2 separate regions of the Homo sapiens genome follow, and region 1 is linked to region 2. Evidence: fine-mapped expression QTL. A gene starts in region 2. The other region holds a variant in brackets. All regions are shown on one strand. Distances are between the middles of the regions. Region 1 holds the start of FAM111A (FAM111 trypsin like peptidase A). Region 2 holds the start of FAM111B (FAM111 trypsin like peptidase B).

Region 1 (15,893 bases), 31 kb before region 2:
TGTCAGGCACTTCATGAAAATTATACTAAACACTTTATGAAAATTATCTCTAGCTGCAAATTCCTGCGGATGCTATGCAAATTAGGTATAGCTACACTTTGCTGATGGGGAAAGTATAGCTTAGAGAAGGTAGACGAACTGCCCAAGGCCAGAGCTATGTGGCAGAGATGGAATTCAAATGCAAGTATAAATAATAGAATAATTTTCAGTTGGAAATTTCAAAAAGCTGTTCTAGTTACATTGATGTTAAAATCTGTTATTCATTTAAGATGAAGATGGCAAGGGGAGATAAAATTACAGGGAAGTGGTGAGGATAGAGCTGAGGAAAGAAACTTGGAATGAGATTTTAAAAAGAAATCTGGAAAGTTTGCTAGGGATGATAGTCAGAAACCTTAGTTGCTGCTTTAGATTTTTTGTTTAAAGAGGTATTTTTCCTTCTATCTCTCCTCTGATGTCTCCCTAGAAGAGGATGAACAAACTTTAAATAAAATAGTGACATCTTCAATAGTAATAAATACCGCTAGAAAGATAAATACCATTGAGGGCAGCAGCCATGTCTGTCCTTAGTACCTCAATATTTCAAAACAATGTCTGAGACATGTCAGGCCCTTGAAAAAGATACATTTCTAAAGATACATTCAATAAACGAATGGAGTAGGCATATGGTGTACTATGCCCTGTTCTAAGTGCTTTTCATCAACTATCTCATGTAATTCTTACAACCCTATGAGATAGGTACTATTTGTCTCATTTTACTGGCAAAAGAGCTTGAACACCCAGGGAGATTAAACTTTTACTCAAGGTCATAAAACTCAGAGAATATACTTTCAGGACTTTTTATTATGAACAATTTATTAGAGAAAAAATGAGAGAATGGTATAATGAACTTCTACATACCTATCACATAGTTAATTGTTCATTTTTTTGCCAATTTATGTAACAGTGAAACAGTAAAAGAACTAACATAAAGAACTCTATTTTTGTTCACGGGGTCTTTATCCATTCATGCATGGAGGGGAGGTTAATTTTAGAGCAGTGAGATAATATGCAAAAAAAATGTAGTTTTAAAAACTAGCTCTGGGATTAAAGGGAAAGTATGTAAACAACTATGGATTGTTAAAAATTTACAGGAGGGTTGTGACCTGGAGAACAAATATAAATATAATCTTTAGATAACTTCCATTTGACAAGAAATACAGGGGCTAGAACATAAGCTAAACAACAACATGTAGAAGCAGCCCAGGAAATTAACATTCTATAGAGACAACTTATCTGTTCTCTTCAGCAAATCAATGCTTGGGCTCACTGGAACATCAGGACAAAGACATTCCCAACCTTCTTGGATCCTTGATGGTGCTCAGATGTCTCCAGTCAATGGTCACCTCTTGATCGTAAATCCCTTCTCTTCCCCATGCCCTTAACATAAAGAGCCTGAAACTTGTACTCACTTAAGAGGCTACTTTGGGTTGCTAGTCTGCCATCTTCTCAGTTTGCTGGCTCTCTGAATGAACCTGCTTTTCCTCCCACCAACTCTCATCTCTCATGTTTGGCTTTGAGGTGTGAGTTGCCAAACCCGGGTTTGGCTACCCTTACACCATCCTTTTATTTTACTAGATGATTTATGTTACAGCTAGAAACATCATGACATTTAAACGCTAATGGTCACTTCCCATCTCTAAAAATTACATAATTTTTCTTTTATAATCACAATACTGATTTATTCATACCAAGATCCAACTGAGGTACACAGTTTCCTTTATATGTCTTATAAGGCTCTTTTATTCTAGAAAAAGCACTGATTTGTTGAAGAGAACAGAGAAATTGTCTCTATAGAATGTTCACCTCCTGGGTTGTTTCCTCATGTCATTGTTTAACTTATGTTCTAGCCCCTGTATTTCTTGTCAAATGGAAGTTATCTAAAGGCTATGTTTACTCTCGTAACCATTCCACTATGGAACAAGAGTCCTGGCTTTCTAGTTTACTGTCAGTCATTGACTAGGGAAATTCATTTAGCCTTTCTGAGCCTCAATTTCTTGTTTGTAAAAAGAAGCAATGATTCTAAATGAGATAATGAATATGGAAGTGCTAAAATAATGTTAGAACTTATAAAACTGTCTGAGTTCAAATATCAGGTAGCCACTTACTAGCTGCATGACCTTGGGCATATTAATTAACTATTCTTCCTTCATTTTCCTCACCTTAAGGTGGGAATCAACCTTGTTATAAAGATTAAGAAATATATTGTGGTCTGGGTGCGGTAGCTCATGCCTGTAATCTCAGCACTTTGGGAGGCCAACGCTGATGGATCACTTGAAGTCAGGAGTTCGAGGCCAGCTTGGCCAACCTGGTGAAAACCTGTCTCTACTAAGAATTAAAAATTAGCTGGGCATGGTGGTGGGTGCCTGTAATCCCAGCTACTTGGGAGACTGAGGCAGGAGAGTGGCTTGTACCTGGGAGGCAGAGGTTGCAGTGATCCGAGATCACACCACTGCCCTCCAGCCTGAGGCCTGAGCAACAGAGCGAGACTTCATCTCTCTCTCTCTCTCTCTGTCACACACACACACACAATATATATATACACACATACACACACATATTATATATATTATATATGCAATCTATCTATATATACAGTGTGTGTAAATATATATATATATAGAGAGAGAGAGAGAGCATATGCAAAGCCTTTAAAACACTGCCTGTATGTAATAGGTCCCCCAGTAAATAATCAATAAAAAGGTCATGTAAATGTTATCAATATCAATACACTCACCACAGGGATACTTTTTAAACAGCAGAGAACCTAGGAAAAAAAATAGAAAATGTACAATTGCGGAACTGGGCTATGTTGCAACATCCCTAAATGCAAGAACTTGTTGCCCAACTATTAAGAAAATCTAGGGATTCACTGTGTCTGTTCATGATGTCTCATCTTACGAAGTTTGAGAGAGGATCCGGGTGCTTTAGGAATGATTAATAGACACAGACAAAAAAAGGAAAATAAAATGGGCAGAAAGAAACATTAATTTTGCATGTACTTGAGCAATCACAGTGGAAAGGGGCAAGAGGTTAAGAAAACACTCCAATATCCTCCGTCTCCCTACATTGTTTTCAGTATCCAGGATAAATCAGATTATATCAAAATATAAAGTGCTCTTAGCTATCCTATACCAACCCCTGTTTTATACTTGACATCAAGGTTCTACTTACCTAAAGAACTTGCTTGACTTCCTACAGCAAAGGGATAAAGCAGTGCAGCCTGGGGCCCATGTCCAGCCCACCTGACAGCTCCCCTTAGGAATTTCTCTGTCTCTCAATCTCTCCTTCCTTCCCTCTCTCCTTCCCCCTCTCTGCCTCTCTCCCTTTCCTCCCCTCCTTCACTCTCCCTCTTCCTCTCTCCCTTTCCTCCCCTCCTTCACTCTCCCTCTCTTCCTGCTTCTCCGCACCCCAACCCCCACTTTCTGCCTTTCCAGGGGCAAGGGCAGGGGTCGAGGCCAACTCTAAGCCTCTTCCAATCCTACCACGCCGCCCCGCTCCCCCCAGCACACAAGGGGACTTGCAGCACTACCAAAATAAAACCTGTGTCCTCCCGGCTCCCCAGATGGGTGGCGCTGTCAGTCCCCGGCTTCCTGACACCCAGCTCCTTCTCCTCCCAGCCGGGACTCGAGCCCGCCGCGGCCGCGCCCGTGACCGCGCCCCGCGGAGCACCCCAGCGCCCTGTGTGCTCACTCACTGCGCGCCTCGCCAGCACTCGGCCTGGAATCCAGCGCTCAACGCAGTTCCCGCTCGTATTTGAGGAAGCAAAGGCTCCAGAGCTCCAGCTGGGCGGGAAACGGAGCAGGTGGGGCTAGGGGTTTGAATCGCCCGCCTTTTGGGAAAAGGTTGTCTGCGAACCAATTGGTTACTTTCTTTCACTTTTAAATCAGCCGTGCCTCTTCCGGCCTAAACCTCAGGTAGCTACAGCGTGCAGTACTTGACGCTGTGTTTATATCAGACAGCACTGCCAGTCTGAAACAAAACTTTCTGAATTTCCTAATCCCCAGAGCCAGCGTGAGAAGTAGACTTGAGCCTGTTCTCTTCCCTTGAACTTTTCTTTTACACGAGTACAACAAAAAACAAGAACAGAGACAAGTCGTAGTGTTGCTAGTGATAAGGCAGATTTTTCACCAAGCCTAAAAAGCTTTTAAAAATCTGGTCCCATAACCAAAGGGGTTCCTAGAAAGATTTCTTTATGCCTAGGGACAAAATAAACTCAGCGCTTGAAAAACTGAGCAAAAAGAAACTGGAGTTCAACCTGATGCAAGATCTACTTTCTCCACCTTTGAGATCAGGGAGAGCCTCAAGAAGGTTGAAGGGACTTCAGGGCACACACTGATTCTGAGTTGAGGGTTGGGAGGTTGATTAGGTCTTGCTGGAGCCTCCAAGAATGTCAAATGTTGGCTCCCAGTAATATCAAAGCAACCTGTTGATAAGACAAAGCTAAGTTTCTTGCTCACTTAGGTAATGGAGAACAATAACTTGACAGAATTTAAGTGGTGTCTCAGAGAGGGAAGAGCAAGTTTGGGCTATATGTATTGAGATTTTGAAGTCCCATTGTAAGTCTAATATTTAATGAGGGGAATTGGTTAGAATTGAGTCAGCTACGGGTAAAAGTTTAGGATTGGTAGATAAAACAAGGCTAGGATTTTGAGGTAAAGGTTCAAAGTCTTAGAATGTAAACTGTTCTTTGATGTTTTCCATTGAAGAGTGGTTGGATCTTTGAAGAAGATACTGGATTAAGCAATAAAGATATTTGCAACTTTCCGGTCCCTGGCAAAAGTTTCTTGAAATAGTAAATGTATGTTGATGAAAATAATGGAATAAGAAGTCAGGTTAATGTAGTTGGCAAGCTATGTGAGTGTAGATGGCTTCAGTTCTCACAATAGTGAACATACCTGATAATGTACTCAACATTTGTCACTTAGAGTATTTTATCCTGGAAAGAAGCGTAGTTGGGAAAACGCACTTGAGATGATGTTTGCTGCACACAGAATTCGGACACAGAGATGTGAATCTCCTTAGGAACCATTTTCATAAAGTTAACATTGGGTCTTAATAGACATCAGTTTTTAAAAATTAGAACAGGCTTGGGCACTGCAAAAGAAAGACACATCCGTTCACTTGGCTGTTCTTTTTAAGTTTCCAGGGAGAGCGTCAGTGCCCCTTTCAACAATAAAAGCCCGCAGGAGTGCAGATTTTATTTACCCTGTCCCCACCAGCATCCTGCTGCGGCCAATGAATCCTGGCAAAACTCCAGGTCAGCCCCAGAACCAAAGAGTAACTCACCTAAGAGGAAGGTCCGTTCCCACCAAGTCTCAGACGCCTGAACTCGTGATTTTTAGGGACTTTCCCTTCCAGTCCCTTGGAATCCAGCACTTTGGTTGGAGAACAGAACTCACTTGGGGAATGGCGCGTCTGGCCAATGGAATGAAAGATACTGGAGTTTGTCTTTTCTCTTCAGGCAGCAACTCACCTACTTCGGAAGCCGATTGGCTGCGCTGGGGACACCTGTTGGCGTGCAAAAAAGAGTGGTTGGAAAGGCAAGGCCGAGGGGGCGCGCCTACCCTACCCACCCACAGCGCTCCTCCTTGACGCCGCGAGCAGGACCCTGTCTCACTGACCCCGTGCCCACGGCGGTCCTTGCCTGCTTCTATTCTCCCGGTTTCCCCAGTCCCGAGTATTGGAAAGCGAGAGCGAAAGCGAAAGCATCCTAGTCGCCGGTAGGCTGGCCTGGGCCGGGCTGGAGAGGGAGCAGGAAATAAAAACTCGGGTGTGGGAGGAGCTGGGACGCTGGCGGCAGAGCCACTGTGGCAGCTTGAGTCTCGCGCGCGCAGGAAGCGGAGGTGGAAGTTGGGGCGCAGGAATGTGGCTGTCCCCGCCTGTAAATCATGGTTGGGGAGGAGTCGCGGAGGCACCAGGCTGGGGTCTGCAGCGCGCCATCTGCTGCAGCACACAGGAGGCGCTGAGGCTAGTTGGGTAAGTGGGGAGATTTCAGGCACTTCCGAGGGGGCGGCATCCCCAGCAGGTGGGATAGGCCCGGTGACTAGGACAAAATCACGAAGAAGCCGCGGATGCAGGAAGAGTAAACTCCCTTGTCATAAATCGATTCTCCAAACGTTCATCAATATGTGGAGACGTTTATGATAGTGATGAAGAAGATGATATGGGCTCTAGGAATATGCATCTCAAAGCTGATGATCGAAGAAGATTGGAGAGGGTTTTCAAGGCAGCCTGCTGTTTAAGGACCTGCATTCTGAGTAGATGTGTATTGGAAAAGGCGATTACAGTCACAAAGGGGACAACTTTTATGCAATTGACAGAGGACTATATGATGTATATAAACAGATAGGGTTGAAAGGTGTGTTGGTAACTACAAAACACATGGGAATTTGAAGGAAGGAACTGGCCTTAAATGCATGTACAATACACCAAGAGAAGCTAAAATTACTGCTTCATCTTCTGTGGGTTCTTTGGGGTTTGGATAGAGTAACCTTAAAACATATTTGAATGCTGACTTTTTCTATGAGACTCACTTTTGGAATCTGTGCATTCCTACATTCACAAAGGGTAATCACAGCTAGTACCCAGCATCCAAACAATAGCAGCCAATAATTCTAATCTGGAGAAAATTTTCTTTTCTCTCTCTTTCTCTCTCTCTCTCTCTTTCTTTCTTTCT[C/TTCTC]TTTCTTTCTTTCTTTCTCTTTCTTTTTTTCTTTTTCTTTCCTTCTTTCTTTCTCTTTTTTCTTTTCTTCTTCATTCCTTCCTTCCTTTCTTCCTTTCTTTTTTCTCTTTATTTCTTCTCTTTCTTTCTTTCTTCTTTCTTTTTTCTTTTATCTTTCTTTCTTTCTCACTTTTCTCCTTCCCTCCCTCCCTCCTTTCTTCCTTCTTTCTCTTTTGCCTGTTTTACATTTTAATGTGTAAGCAAATAGTGATTAAAGGACAATAGGCTTAACATTTTCTAAAACATGGGTGTTCAGAATTGAATATACTGATAAAATTTGTTTCCAAAAGGAAGGATTATATACTAGGTGGGAGTGTAAATTAGTTCAACCATTGTGGAAAACAGTGTGGCAATTCCTCAAAGACTTAAAAACAGAACTACCATTCAACCCAGCAATCCCATGACTGGGTATGTACCCAAAGGAATATAAATCATTCTTTCATAAAGACACACGAACACGTATGTTCCTTGCAGCGCTGTTCACAATAGCAAAGAATCAACCTAAATGCCTATCAGTGGTAGGCTGGATAAAGAAAACTCAGTATACCATTGAATACTACACAGCCATAAAAAATAATGAGATCATGTCCTGTACAGGGACATGGATGGAGCTAGAGGCCATTATTCTTGGCAAACTAATGCAGGAACAGAAATCAAATACTGCATATTATCACTTATACGTGGGAGCTAAATGATGAGAACACATGGACACGCAGAGGGGAACAACAGACGCTGGGGCCTATCGGAGGGTGGTGGATGGAAGAAGGGAGAGGATCGGGAAAAACAACTAATGGGTACTAGGCTTAATACCTTGGTGGTGAAATAATCTGTACATCAAACCCCCATGACATGAGTTTATCTATATAGCAGACCTGCACATGTACCACTAAACTTAAATAAAGCTTTTAAAAAAGTTTTCAATCTACGAAGTTGAGATTTACTAGAAAGGTTATTCAAATGACTTTGACATATTGAAATATTAGTGCACAAGGAGATAATAAAAAGTTATTATTATAGAAGATATAAAACTTGTACCACCTAATATCTGTGCAACTAAATCTACTATGTACCAAGATATTTATCAATATTCTTTCTGAAATTTTTATGTCGTTTTGTATAATTTTAATCATATTTCTTTTAAAAACATTTATGGCATGATAAGTTATGTGTTGGCTTATTGCGGAAAGGGCCTAAAATAACAATTCTTAAACTTTATATATATTTGCAATGAAATATATTTTGGCTTTAGACAATAGGAACATAACCTTTTTTTGGATGAAAGATTACTGTCACATTTTTTCTTCATTATCTGACATCTTTGTCATTTTCTTAACTTATATTACTAATTAAAGTTCCCTACCTTTTCAAAAGAAAAAAAGTCTAATATTGACATTTATTTATCTGTAGCAAACTTTAGCTATTGTTTTTTCTACTAATTTCAGGCAAAAATGAAGTATTAATTTCAGTTACAAAATATAGCTTAGTAAGATCTAAACCAAATAAAATTCACATTCTAAAGACTACAAACAAGTTTTAAAAAGATATTTTGGCCATTAAACTTATTTATTAAATTTAACTTTTGTCTTCTAAGAACCAGAGTTCTTACAATTACTATGAAGCTCCTATTCTATAATCATAGCCTGGGTTCCTTGTCAATGCTTCATTAAACAGGCTATTTTTTTCTTTTTTCTTTTTTCTTTTTTTTTAGAGACAGAGTCTCACTGTGTCACCCAGGCTGGAGTGAAGTGGCATGATCTTGGCTTACTGAAACCTCCATCTCCCAGGTTCAAGCGATTCTCATGCCTCAGCCACTTGAGTAGCTGGGACTACAGGATTTCGCCATGTTCCCCAGGCTGGTCTCAAACTCCTGAACTCAGGCAGCCCGCCTACCTTGGCCTCCCAAAGTGCTAGGATTACAGGTATGAACCACCGCGCCCGGCCAGTTTCTTAATTCTTAGACTAAATCTACGGGGGACACACTTTTGCCAACATTAGCTGCAAAGGGTTTTTTCCTCCACACTTAAGTCACGGTCAGTAAGTAGTTTTTTTTTTTTTCCTGTGTTTTTGTTTCCTTGTTTGTTTTTATTTGGGAAAATGCCTCTTTTGATAGTAATGAATTATTTTTTACACGCAAGGTCAAAAACAGCATGGAGTGAATTTTCTTCCACACGTATACACCCTTTTTTATTCCTGCCTCTGGCTGTAAATAGTTGCACAGTTAAAAGCAGGATGGACTTAACGGAGTATCATTTATATTTATAATTGCTGTATTTGTAATTCTGCTACAGAAATGAATTCTGTTATTATAATCAAAGGTTACACTGTTATCTGAATTCTTGAAAAATATGTAAAAATACTGCTCTTGTGGCTTTTCATAGGTTTATAGTCTATAAACACTAATTTTAATCAATAATTCATATCATTTATGATTAATTTTATGAGAAACAGATAACAATAATAGACATAGGCATAATTATTTTGTGACAGCTGGTGTGTTTGGAGTATTTACTATCACCCTTAAATATGATACCCTGGCTGGAAAACATTAATTTGATAACATACCTTTAAGAAATTATATAAAATATGCAAAAGCATAACCTTATGCACATTTTTAAAACAAGGCCTTCTTGTAGGAAAAAGATTACACCATGCATGAAGATGTTTTGTTTTCTATCATTATTTGAATTTATTTTAAAGGCCATTACTGCTCTGTGTGTGTATATATATATATATACATAAATATACATATATATACACACACGTATGAAACCAAAAATTCCAGGTTCATCATATTATACACAGATTTTCTTTTTTGTTGCCCTTATTCTTAATCATTGAAAGCACTGAAAATCAATACCTGTTTGATAAGATGTGCAATCAAGTTAAAAATATCACAGTTATTATATATAAAACTTTCTTAAGATTACTTTTGTAGTAACCTTTAAAAGGGGTGGTGGTGGTGTGGGATCCCTTGGCAAAGTCCAACTTGGCTGCTTAACTGCTTTCATTGGCCTGGCTAACACTTATGTCTGCCCACGGAAGCAGCAGGGAGTGTGTAGAGGGAAATGACCTCTGCTGCTGTACTGCTTTGAGTTCCTCTCTGAGCTTGGCATTTACATGTGTCTGTTTCATTTAATACTCTCAATAACCCTGTGGGGAAGGTGAGATTATCTTCGCCATTTCACAAAAAGCTTTAGCAAATAATTGTGCAGAAACATCCTTATGAGGATTTGTATTCCCATCTGAAACTAGAAGCCAAACTTATTCTATTGAATGATGGCTGCCTCTCAGATCTAACTGCAAAAAGGCACAGTGGCTTACTTCTTCCTAGTATAATGCTTTTTCATTAATCCAATAATCTATTCAAGGTATAAATTTCGGGTGGCAATTTACAAGATCCGGTGCCACATTCTATGAAGGGTAAAATGTTGACCCCTGCCCTCAAATAGGGAAGACAGAAGAGGTACACAAATAATATCATTTCCACATGGTTTCATTCATTTAAGAGATGTGTTAATTCCTACTTTGTGCCAGGTATTGTACTGGACATTGGGGAACAGAGGTGAATGAATATGATTCTCACATTCATGGACCCAGAGCAGTTTAATGCAATATTGTATCTAAGCCTAGTGCTTTTCCAGGTCACGTCTCATAGCCTATCCAATATATTAAAATGCACACACATTCTATATTAAATACACGTTTGCTGTTTAATCTAGTTTGAAGTACTTGGAGAATTGGAAGAACCAGTGGCCGAGTGTGGAAAATTGTTCTCAGATCTTCCCCCTTCCCTGTACACACACTGGTTGCCAGGTGCCTTTGCAGTTGCTCTCCACCCCATCAATGTTGGGCTTTGGGCAGTAGAATATAGACAGAATTAACACTGTGCTGAGCTCGACCCTGAAAGCCACTGCGTCTTTATGTTTGCCTCTGTCCTGGTTCTGTCGTTGCATGTAAAGAACATGCCCCCGCTAATACTGTCTCATAGAGGGCATGAGCCTAAATGAGGTAGCCTATGGGATGGTCGTGGAGATGTACCTGGCACGAACGCTCCGGAAATGGTATGGCGCCTTTGCCATTGTTACTTCTCTTACTACTACCATGTTACTCTGTTTTGATGGTCTAGATGATTGTGCATGATTTTTAGGTTTTGGATAAATATTACCAAATTACTCAACTACTAGCAGGAAAAGGTGATGTTCACTTCAATTTGAGGTCAAAAGTGTTGTGAGATCGGGATTCCTAGGATCCAGATCATAGACTCCAGCTCAGTCAAAGACCTGGAAGGCAAAGAACCTCTATGAGAGTAATGCCTTCATAAGGAGCCTTCGTTTGGACTCTTAAGGGGGTGTCGGCCCCATCAAAACTCCAGAGGCTGCTAGCCTTCCTCCTTCCAGAAAAGGGAATAACCACCGCGCCCATCCTAGCTGTGGCCCGAGGTTCGAGCGCCCAGGGCCGCAGGGACTAGTAGGGGCACGCGGTCTGCAGTGGCCTCCATCTTCCTGGTACCTCAGGAGGAAGAAACCCGCCCCGCTTTCCTCCAGACCTCACCGCCCGAATGACCCTCCAAGACCCTCTCAAGGCGCCCGCTGTGCTCCTTAATTCGGAGGCAGCCCCTCCACACCTGTGGGTAATTCTCATCAGGTGGGAGGAGGGACTGAGAAAAGAAATAAGACACAGAGACAAAGTATAGAGAAAGAAAAGTGGGCCCAGGGGACCGGCCCTCAGCATACAGAGGACCCGCACCTGCACCATTCTCTGAGTTCCCTCATTATTTATTGATTACCATTTTCACTATCTCAGCAAGATGAATGCGGTAGGAGGGCAGGGTCATAGTGAGGAGAAGGTCAACAAGAAAACGTGAGCAAAGGAATCTGTGTCACAAATAAGTTCAAGGGAAGGTACTATGCCTGGATGTGCACATAGTCCAGATTTATGTTTCTCTCCACCCAAACATCTCAGTGGAGTAAAGAATAATAAAGCAGCATTGCTGCCAACATGTCTTGCCTCCCACCACAGGGCGGTTTTTCTCCTATCTCAGAATTGAACAAATGTACAATCGAGTATTATACCGAGACATTCAGTTCCCGGGGCAGGCAGGAGACAGTGGCCTTCCTCTTATCTCAACTGCAAGAGCCTTTCCTCTTTTACTAATCCTCCTCAGCACAGATACTTCAGGGTGTCGGGCTGGGGGATGGTCAGGTCTTTCCCATCCCATGAGACCATATTTCAGACTATCACATGGGGAGAAACCTTGAACCATACCCAGCTTTCCAGGGCAGAGGTCCCTGCGGCTTTCCACAGTGCATTGTGCCCCTGGTCTATAGAGACTGGCGATGAATTTTACCAAGCATACTGCCTGTAAACATTTTGTTAACAAGGCACATCCTCCACAGCCCTAGAGCCGTTAAACCTTGATTCCATACAACACATGTTTCTGTGAGCTCAAGGTTGGGGCAAAGTTACAGATTAACAGCATCTCAGGGCAAAGCAATTGTTCAGGGTACAGGTCAAAATGGAGTTTCTTATGTCTTCCTTTCTACATAGACACAGTAACAGTCTGATCGCTCTTTCTTTTCCCTACAACCTCACAGCCCAAATGACCCTCCAAGACCCTCTGGAGGCACCCGCAGTGCTCCTTAATTTGCAGCTCTACAGAATGAGACCAGCGTGGCAGCCCCCTTTCAGGACAGCTCCCGAGACGAGACGCGAGAGCAGCCCCTAAATCTCACCCAGCAAAGCCGTTTCTTCCTAACCGGGCTGGGGAGTGCCGCGCGCTGCCAGCAGATGGCGACAGAGGATTAGCCTGCGGAAACCGGGTAAGGGGAGGGCGGAGCTGAGGTGAGAACCCACATCCCTCATGCCCAGTGGCAGCAGGACGTGGAAATGGTTTGCCCAGCCCTCACTTCTCTTGGACAGAGCTTGAGCCTTCTGGGAAACTGCTTTTCCCTGGCTGAGTGATTAGCGGGGGTGTTAAGTTGGGAAGCTGGACGTTCACTTCCATGTGCTCCTCTGAGAACCATCTGTTGGTCTGATGGTGCTAGATCTGAAGCTGGTGAGCCTCTTGGGGCGGCCTCAAGGGCTAACAAGATCTCAAATGCCCTTCTCTCCATCATTTGTGGTATCCTGGATTATTGTGAAAATGTATAGGGATTCCTGGGGAAGAGTTAAGGATTAAAATATAAAGGTTTAAATATAAATAACTTTATATATATATGTTTTTTCTTGTAAACCAATATGTTATATAGTAGGAAGTTTAATTCCTTAACTTTGGTTTTTCTCCCTAGCCTTTTTATAGCCAACAAGAGCAAAAGCACACTGCAATGTCCAAACGAATTGCAGGCGTTTTCTGCTCCCTGAAGCCTGGGAATTAATTTATATACTCAGTCCCTTTTCCCTTGGCTGGCCATTGAAGTAGTTGAACCACAGGATTGGACTGTCCAGAATCATTAGCCAGAGTTCACTGTGAGTGGACGTCTTTTAGTTCTGCTTCAACGCTATAACCAACCTTTACCAAAAGCAACAACAAAACAAAAAACTGCAGAAACCAATGAGTTCTGTTCACAAAGGATGGCTCCTCATGTCATCACACCGGCAAGGAATGGACGAGCCTCTGATTTTTCTCTTCTTGGCTGACTTTACAAGGTTGGATGCAGTCCATGAGGATCATGCAGCAAAGACAGAAAGTGCTGGAGAAGCCCAACCTGCAGGGCCTCACCTTTAGCTGGTTTGTGTGGTTCCACTTCATGTAGCTGTTGGAACACCAGTCTCTCTAATGTGCTCTATGGGATAGCTGTTACCTTCCACTAATTTATGTCTAATACCTATAAACCTAAAGTATCTTTTTAAAAATTTTATTCCGTCTTTTTGGAGGAAATTTTTGTGCATGCCAGATATAGTGTCAAGCATTGGGATTGCTAAGATGAACGTAACATTGTCCTCACCACCCATTAAGTCACAATCTAGTAGATGAGTAAAAGTAAAAAAAAAAATTAAAAAAAGAGTTATAACCATAATACAGAAGTGAACAGGTTGCAGTGGTAGCACAGAGAGGGCTTCAGGGATGCTGTCACAGAGGTGGTAACATTTGAGATATAGATTCCAAATTCAGATGTGTTTGCTGTTGCAAAATTCCAGGGTCTATGTGCCCAGTTCCTGAACATTCCAGTGATAATTTTTACCTAAAATTTAGGTGGCAAATGAATCTTACTATAACCACTTGGAACCACTGTGTTTCTGGTCCATCTTGTGAGGCCCATCTTTGGTTCAGAGGGATGGAGGCAGAAGTCATACGGCAGGTAAGCTCAAGCAGTGATACATGACAGGGCTTTCAGAACTGGGGCCATGAAGAGCAGGCTTTATTTGCATGCTGTTTAAAAACAAGATTTTACAACTGATTTACCCTATTAAACACTTCCATGAATAACTCAGTGGAGATTTATTTGCAATAGTAGGATCAGGTGATTTGAAATCTTTAGTGTGTGTGGTTGTAGCAGGAGGAGTACTGGGTTCCAGCATTTAATAAGAGGACCCATGGTTTTATGAAAATGTCCAGAGATATAATTTTGGTTAAGGTTATACCTCATCTTTGGTTGTACAGTTGTTTCTTTTAGTTTCAGTACAATCTAAAACAGGAAATGTCAATTCACATGGTCTGGTAGAGAAAGAATGACTCTAATGCTCTACTATTCAGGTAGAAATGAAGAAAGAAGGGTGATCACTTCCATGAGCACTGTAAGCCCTTGAATGGGCTTATAGGCAAATACTTATAGTTAAAATATGTAACTCCCATTTTAGTATTGGATAGAATACTGTCACATTTTTTCTTATTAAATCTACATTTTTACCATCTTTCTTGATTGATTTTGCCAATAAAAGTTCCTTACCTTTTTATAAAAGTCAAAGATTGACATTCATTTTTCTGTAGGAAATTTTGTCTTGTAGAAAAAATTAGAAGCCAAAGATAATATAACCTTCCTCCAAAGAGACTTTACCATTAATTTTTGCAAGCAGCTGGGTGGGAGTCACTTGTAGTCCTAGATTACATTAACCTAATTTAGATTGAGGTGATTTCAAATTGACTTGTGTCCCTGTGAAGGCTGAGATATTTCTGGAACATTTTTATTCCTTGGGTACAACAACTTTTTACCCATCCAAAATCCTGTGGTGTTTATTAGGTTTCCTACTAGCTGACAGGCTTTAAACTCTGACTTTTTCCTCCCTCAGCTTCACGATTCGAACTCAAATGTCTGGTCAGCTACTCAGCCATCTCTTCCAAGCTGTCAGGTTTCCCTAAGGTAAGAGCCATACTGATATGGTTTGGCTCTGTGTCCCCACCCAAATCTCATCTTGAATTTTAATCCCAATAACCCCCAAGTGTCAAGGGGGGAATCTGGTGGGAGGTGATTGGATCATGGGGACAGTTTTGCCCATGCTGTTCTCATGATAGTGAGTTCTCATAAGATATGATGGTTTTATAAGGGGCTATTCCCACTACACTTTTATCTCTCCTGCCACCCTGTGAAGAAGGACATATTTTCTTCCCCTAATTCCATGATTGTAAGTTTCCTGAGGCCCCCCAGCCATGTGGAACTGTGAGTGAATTAAACCTCTTTCCTTTATAAATTACCCAGTTTTGGGTATTTCTTTGTAGCAGTGTAAAAACAGATTAATACAGGAAATTGGTACCAGGAGTTTGGGGCACTGCCACAAAGATACTTAAAAATGTGGAAACCACTTCGGAACTGGGTAACAGGAAGAAGTTGGGACAGTTTGGAGGGCTCAGAAGACAGGAAGATGTGGGAAAGTGTGGAACTTCCTAGAGACTTGCTGAATGGTTTTGACCAAGATGCTGAGAGTGATATGGACAACGAAGTACAGGCTGAGGTGTTCTTATATGGAGATGAGGAACTTATTTGAAACTGGAGCAAATGTCACTCTTGCTATGCTTTAGCAAAGAGACTGGAGGCATTTTACCCCTGACCTAGAGATCGGTGGAACTTTGAACTTTTATTAGTCCATTTTCATACTGCTATGAAGAAGTACCTGAGATTGAGTAATTTATAAAGAAAAAGAGGTTTAATGTACTCACAGTTCCACATGGCAGAGGAGGCCTCACAATCATGGTGGAAGGTGAAGG
Region 2 (11,560 bases):
ACTAGACCTATTGGTCAGTCAACAAGCACCCTCCCATCTCTGAACCTTTGTACTTGCTGTTTTCTCTATCTTCAATGTTGTTCCTCTAGATATTTCCATCTAGGACTCACCTCCTCACTCCTTTCAGGTCTCAGATATCACCTTATCAGAGAAGCCAATTATCATCACTTCCAAAACAGCCTCCGCCATTCTCTTTTCCCTTCTGCCCATATCAAAACACACACACACACGTGCATGCACACACACAAACACACACAATTTATTTTTCCTTTCTCCCTCTACAGTGTCAGCTCCAAGAGAACAAGGATACCACTGTATTCACTGGTATATCCTTGGTACCTGTGACGTACCAGGCACGTAGGTTTGCAAGAAATGTTCATTGAATAAATGATCAAAGTGATTGAATGAATATCTACTATGTACTCACCACTGTCCTGGCCAATTAGAGACAAGGAAGAAAAAGGCGAAGTTCCTGTCAGTGCTAAGGTGCTTGGGTTTTAGGGTCAAAACCTACTTGTCATTTCTGCTCCCTCTCTGGCCTCCACAGTTTAAGCCCTACATTCTCCATCTCTCTTTTCCTTCACACCTCTCATCCACTCCATCCCCTCCTCTCTGCCCCTTCAGCTCCCAGTCTCAGGCCACTGCAGGCCCCCTCCTCTTTAGCCTGGATGTTTTTGGAATAGCCTCCACTCTCAACTCTTCTATCCCTTCAAGCATCTTCCCATCCCCTCTTTTCCAAGGCCCATGGGGCTAGAGTGTTCTGGCCCCTGTCCACCCCTCCCTCTGCCCCACCTTCTGCTGCTCAGCTCCTCTCCCCTTGGTCCCAGCTACAGTGATCACTCAGGCCCTGGACAGGAAGCCTTAGCCATTCTCAGGGCTTGTGCATTCACCATTCTGTCTGGCCTTCCCTTGGGTGTCTTCAGGGCCACTTCAGAGGCCTCTTGACTTCCCTAGCCGGAGCAGCACTCCAAGGCACACACTTGCCACTTTCTGTTACCTTTGTATGTTCTTGATCCACTAGCGAAAACTTTCTATTTGTCTGTTTCCTGGATAATCTCTTTCACTCTTTAAAATGTAAGGTTCACAAGAGCTGGGACTCTGTCCTTCTTTCACATGCCTAGTCCCTAAAGTAGAAGCTGGTCAGTAAAGTTTGCCGAGGGGCCAGGTTTCAAATGCATTCTGAACAAATGCCTCCCCTCTGTTTTCTGTCAAATTGGAAAACACTTCCCTCTAGGTGTGGTGAGACTCCCATAAGATGTGTCTAATGTGCCGGGCAGACTGTTGCATCTGGCATACATAAGTCCCAATAACTTATGATCTTGACCATCCAGTTTCCAGGGGACTCTAAGTCTGGGGGACGCTGATAGAGACGTGACTCCATCTGTGCAGAGCTTTTGTCTGGGGAGGGAGATTCCAGTGCTAGAGGTTTCTCTTTTGAGGAGTTTATGTAGGGTGGAGGAAGCAAGGGTTTCTCGTCAAAGGGGCAAGACATACTCCAGAGACCCAGAGGTAATAGCAGCCACTCACAGTTCTCTGGACAATCTTAAAGCTGCATGATGTCAGGATGACTAACCTCTGTCACTTGTGCCTTGTACTTCTGATCTTTCTAGTTCTCACCTTGTCTGGTGGCCTTGGAGAGAATAATGCACCAGTCACATTGCCCCTTCAATCACCCACTCCCTGCTCTGCCTTCATCCACCAGGTTTGCCTATTCTCCCAGGTACCCCACAGCAAAAGAAATTAAACAAGACCAAAATAAATGGAGAATATATCTTGTTCAAGATTGGAAGACTCAACATGGTTAAGATGCTAATCATCCACAATTGTGTTAATTTTTTTACACAACACACAATTTACACAAACACACAAACTTTGATCCAGATATTGCACCATACAAAAAATAAATAAAACTTAAAATCAATTGCAGACTAAACCTAAAACTACAACTCTGGAAGAAAACTAGAAATGTTTTGTGATCTTAGATTTAGGACAGTTCTCTGATGTAAAAGCAAAAGCATGATCCACAAAGAGAAATATAGAGAAAGTGGACTTCATCAAAGTTGAAAACTTTTCCCTCCCGAAACAGGAATAAAAGGATGAAAAGACAAGCCACACAGAGATAAAATATCAGGAATTATCACAAATATTATGAGAAAAGCAATATGACAAAGGACTTGTTTCCAAAATATGTAAAGCCCTCTCAAAACTCAGCAATAACTAACAAGTATAAAATGGGAAAAATATTTTAATAGACACTTCACCAAAGATATGTGGATGATATAAACACATGAAAAGATGCTCAAATCATGAGTCATAGTGAAATACAAATTAATACCACAAAACGATGCCATTACATACCTATGAGAATGAATAAATCAGAAAAACTTTGTGTTGACAAGAATATGAAACAACTGGAACTCTCACACATTGGTAACGAGGATGAGAAATCATACAGCCATTTTGTAAACATTTTGATAATTTCTTATAAAATTAAAGTTATGTCATACACTTTCCATGACAGCAATTCCACTGCTAGGTGAACCCAAGAGAAATGAAAACTAATCTTCATACAAAAACCTGCAGGCAAATGTTCACAACAGCTTTATATACAAAGTCCCCAAACTGGAAACAATTCAAATGTTCTTAAGGGAGTGAATGGATAAACAGATTTTGATACATTCACACAGTGGAATGCTACTCATCAATAAAAAGAAAAAACCTATCAGTGCATGCAACACTCATGAATCTTAAATGGAATGTTCTAAGTGAAAGAAGCCAGACTCAAAGGGTATGATTCAGTGTATGTTCCATTTATATGATGTTCTGGAAAAGTTAACACTAGAGTAATGAACAGATTAGTGGTTGCCAGGGACTGGGATGAATAGGGCACAAGTGGGGAGAACAGGAAATTATATAGAGTGATGGAACCACACAAGAAATTATTTAGGGTGATGGAACTGCTTTGCTTCTGGATTTTGGTCATGGTTACATTACTGCAGGCATTTGTTATAAGCCATTCAACTGTATACCAAAAAGACTGAATTTTACTGTATATGAAATACATAAATTTAAAGGAAACAATAAAAGTTAAAGCCTTTCAAATAATCTGTAAGACAATTAATTGGGTGTGGGGGTTTTTGTGTTCATTTCTATCATCTTTTTTTGTATCTTCTACTTTTGCCACTTTTTCTGAATTTATATTCCCTTGCTTTGTTGCCTCCTTTACTTTGATTTTTCCCTCTCATTCTATTTTCTAGACGAACAGTTTGGCAGTTTTATACTCTAGTTCTGTTCTATAATTGGATGCCCTAGACTAGTACTGCCCAATAGAATGTCTGCAGTGACGGAAATGTTCTACATCTGCACTGTCTAATTCCACAGCCACATGTGGTTCTTAAGTACTTGACACGTGATATAACTGAGAATTTGTACTATTGACCTTTTTCATTATTTGATTTTAGTTAAGTTGAATTTAAATTTAAATTTACATAATCACATGTGATTAGTGGCAATTGTCTTGAACGAAATAGCCCTAATCATTTTAACATTAATATTTAACTTAACAAAGTCTTAAGTGAATTGAATAACTCCTCCTAAGCAATACAAAGATAAAGTCTGTAAACACATCTCCTTTATTTACAGAAGGAAATCCAAAAACCTACACATGGAATTCAAAGAAAAAAAAGATACTGCAGCTATTTTCCAGAAAGCTATTCTACCTCTCTCCCACTTTTTAGGAGCCATACACGTATGGAAATGAATTCATGACAGCTTAAGAATATCTATATGTGCCCTCTCAGTCACAAGGTTTTGTGTTGAAATGGGTGAGCTACTTAAGTTGGGACAATTAGATGGCAAAGAGAAGTTTCCTCAGGAAACCAGGATAGACTCATTATAGGGAGAGTAAAGCATCTGATATTACTGCAGCTCTATTTGTCACTATGCAGAAAGCCAGCCAGGGGATAACATGAAAAGCAGAACACAGAGACTGAACACACAAACAAGTCCTTAAAGAAACTGTATACCACTGAATTAAGAGCTCAGCTGAATTCTGGAATGTCCACTCATGTGAACCAGCGAATCCATTTTATTGTTTCACAATTAGAAAATATTTTTACTGGAAATGTGGAAAGCTCTTATTGATATAAAGCCTACTGTGATCTTGGCACCATACTACCTTACCAGTATAGAAAACAGTATTTGCCTACCATATTCTTGAATTCTCCTTATAAAGCATCAAATGCAGCTATCCTGTTCCCCAAATATGTTTTCCTGTGTACACGACTTTACTTAGGCCATTCCTTCATCCTTGATACACTAGTGAAATGTTATTCATTCTTTTTAAAAAATAACTTAGTTTTAGACATACAAAATGCATAATTAATGTACATAATTAATGTATGCAACTTGATGAGTATGGAGATACATTATCACCACAATCTATGCCATCAACCTATCTATCACCTCCCAAAGTCTCTTCCTGCCCTCTTATTATTTTTGTAATTAGAACACTTAACATAAGATCTATCATTTTAGCAAGAACTTGAGTATACAACAGTGTTATTAACTATAGGCACCCATGCTGTACAGATCCCTAGAACTTATTCACCTTGTATAAGGAAACTTTGTACCCCTTGACTAATACCTCCATTTTTCTCTATTCCCAGCCCAACAACCACTTCGACACCTATGAGTTTGACAATTTTAGATTTATTATTCATTAATAAATCATTTCTCATATGACGCTGCTGTAGTTTCCTAAGTCTGAATTAAGCATTCTTCTCTCTGTACTCTAAAATCACTTGTTTATGTCTCAATTTTGTATTATCATTTTGCATATTTTGAGCAAAATAGTGTGGGTCAAAAACCAGTCTCTGCAGTCTGATGGACTAGGTTTAAATCCTTGCTCTGAAGTCCATTACTTCTGCAACTATAAGCAAGTTGAGCTTCAGTTTCTTCTTTTATAAAATAAGTATGATAATAATACCTACTGCATAGTTCTATTAAGTGTTAAATGAGATAATACATATGATGGGACACAATTCTAGGCACACAGTGTTTCCTCAGAAAACATTAGCTAATTATTTTTGCCTGTCTACACTTTCCAAGACTTTAAGTGTCTATATTGTTTGTTAGTCATCTTGTTGTCTTAACATACGTTTAGCATTGTTAACTCTATCATTTTGCTTTCCACAAGCACTTATGTGTATGAGCTCCCCAAATATATTTTAAACTACCTAAGAGAAGGGCTTATAACGACCATTGTTTAAGAACTTATCTCCAAGATCCTCATATGGCACTATAGTTAGACTATCACTCCTCTGAGGAGTTGTAAAAAAGTAGATATACCTTTGAAACTTCAGGTCTAGTCCTCTGGTCATCTTCCATAGCGCTAAATGACTTGTTTTCTTCAGTCTTCATGGAATTCATGATGAGTTCAAAGAGAATGTAACTAACTTCTACTACTCGATAAGATGGAGAAACAAGGATTGAATTTATTCTGCCACCTGAAATGTCTAAAAAAACCAAAAAAACAAGATCTATGAAATAACCACTTTCAAACACTGGAGATCAGGTGGTGTGGGACCTCATCTCTGATATCTGAGAAGAAAATCATATGAGGTAAGCCCTATGGCTATTTAGCTTACTGTATGGAGTTTCCAAGGCATATCTTAGGAAGGAGAAACAGGCAGAGTCTAGTAGTTTCCCTGATTTGAGAAGACAAGCAAGGAGTTTTGGGAGGCCAAGATGACTGGAGCTTGTATGACAGAGTACTAGGGAGAAGACAGCCACAGGAGCACACAGTATGAGAGATCTGCAGTGGGTATCCCTTGAGATTTCAGCTTGGTCAATGCATGAGTGGAACGAAACTGTTGAAAAGGAACAGGAAAAGAAGTACCCAAAAGAAGCAGATGTAACAATTTCTGAGGCTCATACAGGACTGTGTATAATTTCAATTCCCAAAAATCCGACTAGAAAACTTCATAATTCATGAAGTATCAGGGAGACTACTCTGCAAGGTATTTCTTCCGCAGTAGGACAAAATTAGCCCTAGTTCTGCTCCCACCTAATAAATAAAAGCAAGCTTCGAAAGTATAAAATGGTTTCCATGTAAAATATGAACATACTAGAACAAAGCTCAAGAATATTGATAGGAATGTAAAAATTTCTGGCACCCAAAGTTGTGAAATTAACAAAGCTTGATATCTAATAAAAAAATCAGCAGGCACTTAAAAAGTGGATAAATATGACCCATAATGACTAGAAATATCAGTGAATAGAGACAGGTCCAGAAGTGAGAGAGAAGATAGAACTAGCAGTCAGAAACATTAAAAGTCATTACCTTGAATTTCTGGCCAAAATGGAGTAACAGGGACTGGATTTCCCCCTAGTATGAAAACAAAACAAAACAAAAAAGAGCAAAACATATGAAACAATGGTTTGCAAGGAACTGGACATTATGCAATTAAGGACAGTGACAATTGAAATGTATCCTATAATCCACTTTAGCAGACTACCTTGAGGAATTCCAGGCCAGTGTGGCAAGGAAGGGCAGCAAGACAAAACCAGTAGGAATTCCAGATTTAAGGAGACAAAGCTGAGAGACTAAGGTGACAAGAGGTCACAGGCCAAAGACATGGTGGGAGACCTGCACAGAGAGGGAACTCTGGATATATGAAGAGGGTTCCCCTAAAGCATTCAGCTGTGTACTGATCAGAGCAGCAGCTGAGAAAACTTTCCAAGGCCAGGAAAGAACCACCCTAAAACTGTCATAGTCTAACTTTCCACCAACCCTCTCCCTGTAACCCTTTTAGGGATCCCCATTTCCTCATTTCTAGATTAAGGACTTTGGCTCAGATGAAACTTTTATTGTTCGTGTGAATTGGTTCCTCTAAGCTTTTTAAAAAGGATTCCAGATCCCACCCTCACAGACTCTGATTCAGTATGTCGGGGTGTGGCTATGGAATCTGCATTTTTACCTGCCTCACTCCACAACCCCCGCCTCAAAGGCGCACCAAGTTCTTTGAACAGCTGCCTCTGTCACCGCAGGATGACCTCAATGCTTTCCTAAAGCCCCAGAACCTATGAAGGTAACCTGTGCTTGAAGCTGTGCTTGCTTACAGAAACAGAGACTGGATGTCAGTAACCACCGTGCTACAAGATGGGAAACGAACTTAGAAGCGCTACCCTAACCTGAATCCTTGCTGATTACCATACCTCAATCTGTGCCTCGGGGAGAAACGCAGCTTGCTAGGCACATGTAGTGTTGGGTGGCAACAGAAAATAGGAGACTGCCACACTCAGCTGTTTCTGGAAAGCCCCGTCTCTTTCCAGAAATCCTTGCTTTCCAACTACCTGCCCTAAAAGACCTTAAGAAGCACCCTCACACTACACTCCAGGCACTTTGAGCAGGAGCTCTCCTACTCCATTCCTTGATCAGTGAATAGTTTCTGCTCTGCTTAACCGAACCTGGTCTCCTTCTATGGGCGCGAACGGCACCGGGCAGGGAAAGGACCCACCAGGGTCAAACGACCCTCTCGAGATTCAGGAACACCCAGATGATCTCTAAGTATCTCTTCAGGAGTACAACTCTTGGCCTTTGAAGCTGAGACAGGGGGAAGGGAATTACAACGGGCGGCTGCCCAGCTCCCCATCCAAAACCCCCTTGACTTTGGGCTGAGGTCCTTCTGCCTACTGCCCTTGTCAGCCATCCCCCTAAGAACTCCAGGTCCGACCCGGGAAAAGAAAAACCACTCACAGAACCGGAGAGTCTGTCCACACGGTGCAAGTGCCCGTCAGTGCCCGCCGCTCTGGATTTGCAGGTGCTGGAAAGACTGCTCTTTTATATCTCTCAGCTGAACTTTTCCCGCCTAGAAGGGCTCGCCCGTGCGCGGCAGGAGCCTGGGAACTGACACTCTCGCTGGCCAATGGACGAAGAGTCTCTGGAGGCTGTTTTTCTCTCATTGGATGTAAATGACTCATCTCTCATCCACTGTGGAAGCCAATTATCATCACTCCAGACAGTGATTGAAGGGAAGGACCGGATGAGCGCGCAGCGCGCGCAGGTGGGTCTGAAGGCCGGGCCGAGGGTACTGCGCGCCAACCCGCCCACCCTCCCTATTTGTCTGGATGACCCTTCCCGGTCTCAGTGATCCCCTCCCCGGCACCACTCAGTCCACGGCCAGTTCCCGTGTCCCAGGATAAACTAAGCAATCACCGCCCTGCTCTTTCCCGCTCATGGGCGTCCCCTGTCTCCCAGTGGAGGCTAGGGAGGAGCTGCGCGGTAGCTGGGCGGAGTGGGAGGTGCCTGGAGGTTTCGCGCTTTCTCCGACTTTTGATTGCCAGCGCGCTGGCGGGAGCCGCGCGCTGGCGGCAGCTGCAGGGCGAATAGCCCGCCAAGTTGCTTAGGTGTGTGGCAGTTGCTGCCTTTCTGCAGCGGCGGGGTGGGCGACGGTGGCGGGATGAGCATCCAGGCGGGATCCTTTGGCGGCAGCAGCAGAGAGAGCTCCACCCGGATAATGCAGAGGCCCAGGCTCCAGCGGACTTCAAGTCCCAGAGCAGGCTGCACCCGCGTCTGCGTGAAATCTAAAGGGACTTGGCCTGATCACAAATGAGCTAACTTCGCGGCGGGGCTGGCGAACACAGACAATGCCAGCCTGGAGGAGGCAGTGGCCAGCACTGCTTAGGCCTCGTTCCCAGGACGCGCATTACTGAGTGCTGTACTTTACCCTTTGGATGAAGGCTCCAGAGTACGACCTCCCCAAACTGATATCAAAGAAGTGCTTTGCATGGGGCTTGAGAAAACATCTTACTGTTTAAGAAAAGAACGTCTTACTGTCTGAGAAGCTGAATAGAATGAGATGCCATCAGTATTGGGTGTTATTTTTCAGAAGTTGCTCAAAGAAGGAGAGAAGATGGTTAAGTGGGGATGGAGACAATTATTTTGTAACTCATAGAAGGACAGATGTTTATGTAACAGTTGATAGTTTTGGTGGAATAATCATGAGCATGTTTCTGAAATTAATATAAAATATACAGAGACCCCTAAAATCACTGCTTAAATTACACGGGTCTTGAGGTGTTCGGAAAGAGCAAACTTTGGAAGTATAATTGTAAAAATAATGTCATACAGACAAAGAGAAGAGAAAACTTAACGACAGCTTTCTTAAATCGCTGTTATTCTTGAATCATCTGAAAGCAGTACACGTGCCTGGCACCAATATACATCAGAGAGTAAATCATTGCACAAGGAGACTTGATCTTCTTTTTTTGTAGAATCTGGAGGAAACAAATCTATGAAAAGCAAGAGATGGTAGAGAATGGTGTTGTCGAAATTGCCTGACATCATTGGAGATAGAGAATTTGCCCTGGTAAAAGGTGCTCCTCAGGGAGGAGCATCTGCACATTCCATTAGCATAAAGCCCCTGGTGGGCCATATGAAGAAGTCTGGATTTTGCTATAAATGTGAAATTTATTTTAAATGGAGGATTTGAAGCAGGGGGGTAATATACCCTGACATATTTTAAAAAATCACCCTAGCAGCGTTTGTGCGGGGTAAAGACTCTGGGAGGACAAGAAGAGATGTGGAAGGGAGAAGGCAGCTAAGAGTCTGTCCCAGGATTGCAAAGATGTTGGAGCCCGACCTCAGATGGTAATGGTGGAAGTGTTAGAAATGGCTGGATTCCACATTTATTTTGAAGGGCCAGCCCTTGGAATTTGCTTATGGATGTTCCATAAATAAGAGAAACAGAGGGCTCAATGACGATTCCTGGGCTTTTGACTTGAGCAACTAGAAGGATGGGGAAGTCTGAGGACAGAGATGCTGTGTGTGTCAGGAGTGGGGTGTGTGTGTGTGTGTGTGTGTAAAATTCTACTTTTGACATGTCGAATTGGAGATGCTAATCCACTCCAACTGAAAAATAAGGAGGGAAGTGGACATTCAACACATGATGACAGGAAGACAGGGAAGCTGGGACTTATGATGGTAACAATGTTGGCCATTAACTGAGAATTTTTTTTTTTTTTGACACAGAGTCTTGCTCTATTGCTCAGGCTGGAGTGCAGTGGCATGATGTCGGTTCACTGCAACCTCCACCTCCTGTGTTCAAGCGATTCTCATACCTCAGCCTCCTGAGCAGCTGGGATTACAGGAGCCTGCCACCATGCCCAGCTAACTTTTGTTTTTCTAGTGGAGATGGGGTTTCATCATGTTGGCCAGGCTGGGGTCGAACTCCTGGCCTCAGGTGCTCTGCCTGCCTCAGCCTCCCAAAGTACTGGGATTACAGATGTAAGCCACCACGTCAGGCCTAAGAAATATAATTAAAGTACAGGGAAAATTAAAAGAAAGTTCACAGAGAGATATCACGGCAAATGATAAATACAAAAGCCTGCCTTGTTTCCCATACCCCCTGTGTCTTAGATTCCCTGAATTTTACCTCCCAGTGGACCGTGCTTGTCCCTTTGTAATGGCGCTCCAAGCAGCACTGCTGCACACCAATTCCTGAGCTTCCCTGCTTCTTGAGCTTAGGAATAGTTGTGCTTCTATTTCCTGTTTATTTGCTCATCACTGGAGTAGCAACTGAACCACACAATTGGGATAAGTACCCTGAGGCCATTTTGGGAGTAATCTTCCATTTCTTCCTTACGTATAAAACTGCCCCTCACAGAGAAACTGTCTAGAGTGATAGGTCCAGAGTAGAGCTCTAGCTTTGCTTTACCCTTTGCAGCTGTGCTCTGAGAGCTTTGATGCAATCCCACTGCAACTGGAATCAGTGACAGAGTAGGGATGCTCAGGGAATCTGTTGGGCCACCAAAGAAAACTCACTTCTAGCTAATGCTTATCTGGGGCTATGGAAGTTGTCTAACATCCCTGGGGACAGAGTGTTTGCCCTGAAAAGGAACATTCCCTTGGCACAAAGTATCCTGTTGGCTGGATTTTATTATAAATGTGACAAGAATGCTTTTGGCCAGTAACTGGTGGTTGGGTCAGTTTGTGTTTTGTAAACCCATAAAGAGGAAAAGGCTCTCATGTGGTTGGGAGAGGTGGGAATGGATCATGCACTAAGGTCAGGTCTGGTGAAGTTAGGGAATAAGGCCAGTGTTTACGAAGAGTGATTCCTTCATGAACCCCTAAAAGATGCTCTGGAACACTACCAGTAGGATGATGTCTGTATGTAGAGGTGCAGATGACATGTTCTCGGAATACAGAGGAAGGCACCACTGCCTCTACCTTGAGAGTATATCACAGAGAAAGATTTATATTTGGACTAGATGGCTGAGAGATGAGTAGGAGTTTGATAGAAGAGAGCATGGAAACTGGCTGTACAACGGCAGAAAGGGCAGGAAAGGCTGAGGAGAATTGGCCTCTGGGGGTGGGTTATAGATATGGGCCTGGGCACCACATTCTGGAGCTTGCAATGGGGTATGTAAAAGCTTAGATGGGATGGTCTTTTCCTCTCCTCCCATGGGTTCATAGTTGGCCCACCTCACTCACTGCTGCAAACAAGCTGCCCCCATTTGAGAGAGAGCTGGAGTGGGGTCTCTAAGCCTCCAGCAACCA

Evidence for each region.
Region 1: its variant is fine-mapped to the expression of FAM111B in whole blood (INTERVAL, PIP 0.95).

Annotation. Positions count from the first base shown.
Region 1 is chr11:59,132,737-59,148,629 of GRCh38, reverse strand. FAM111A (FAM111 trypsin like peptidase A) reads right to left here and starts at 5,774. Exons shown (of 6, transcript NM_001312909.2): 1 at 5,684-5,774; 2 at 5,326-5,547; 3 at 4,935-5,133; 4 at 2,774-2,803. It overlaps FAM111A-DT (FAM111A divergent transcript), which reads left to right and starts at 5,822. Exons shown (of 4, transcript NR_110184.1): 1 at 5,822-6,015; 2 at 8,463-8,673; 3 at 12,349-12,573; 4 at 13,042-14,658. It also overlaps the pseudogene LOC100422399. RefSeq lists enhancers at 4,079-4,188, 5,557-6,006. The variant C/TTCTC (reference allele first, on the strand shown) is at 6,716.
Region 2 is chr11:59,103,496-59,115,055 of GRCh38, reverse strand. FAM111B (FAM111 trypsin like peptidase B) reads right to left here and starts at 7,819. Exons shown (of 4, transcript NM_198947.4): 1 at 7,760-7,819; 2 at 6,344-6,388; 3 at 5,350-5,516. The coding sequence starts at 5,430. It overlaps LOC105369315 (a long non-coding RNA gene), which reads left to right and starts at 8,331. Exons shown (of 3, transcript XR_007062680.1): 1 at 8,331-11,560. RefSeq lists enhancers at 6,651-6,700, 7,841-7,930.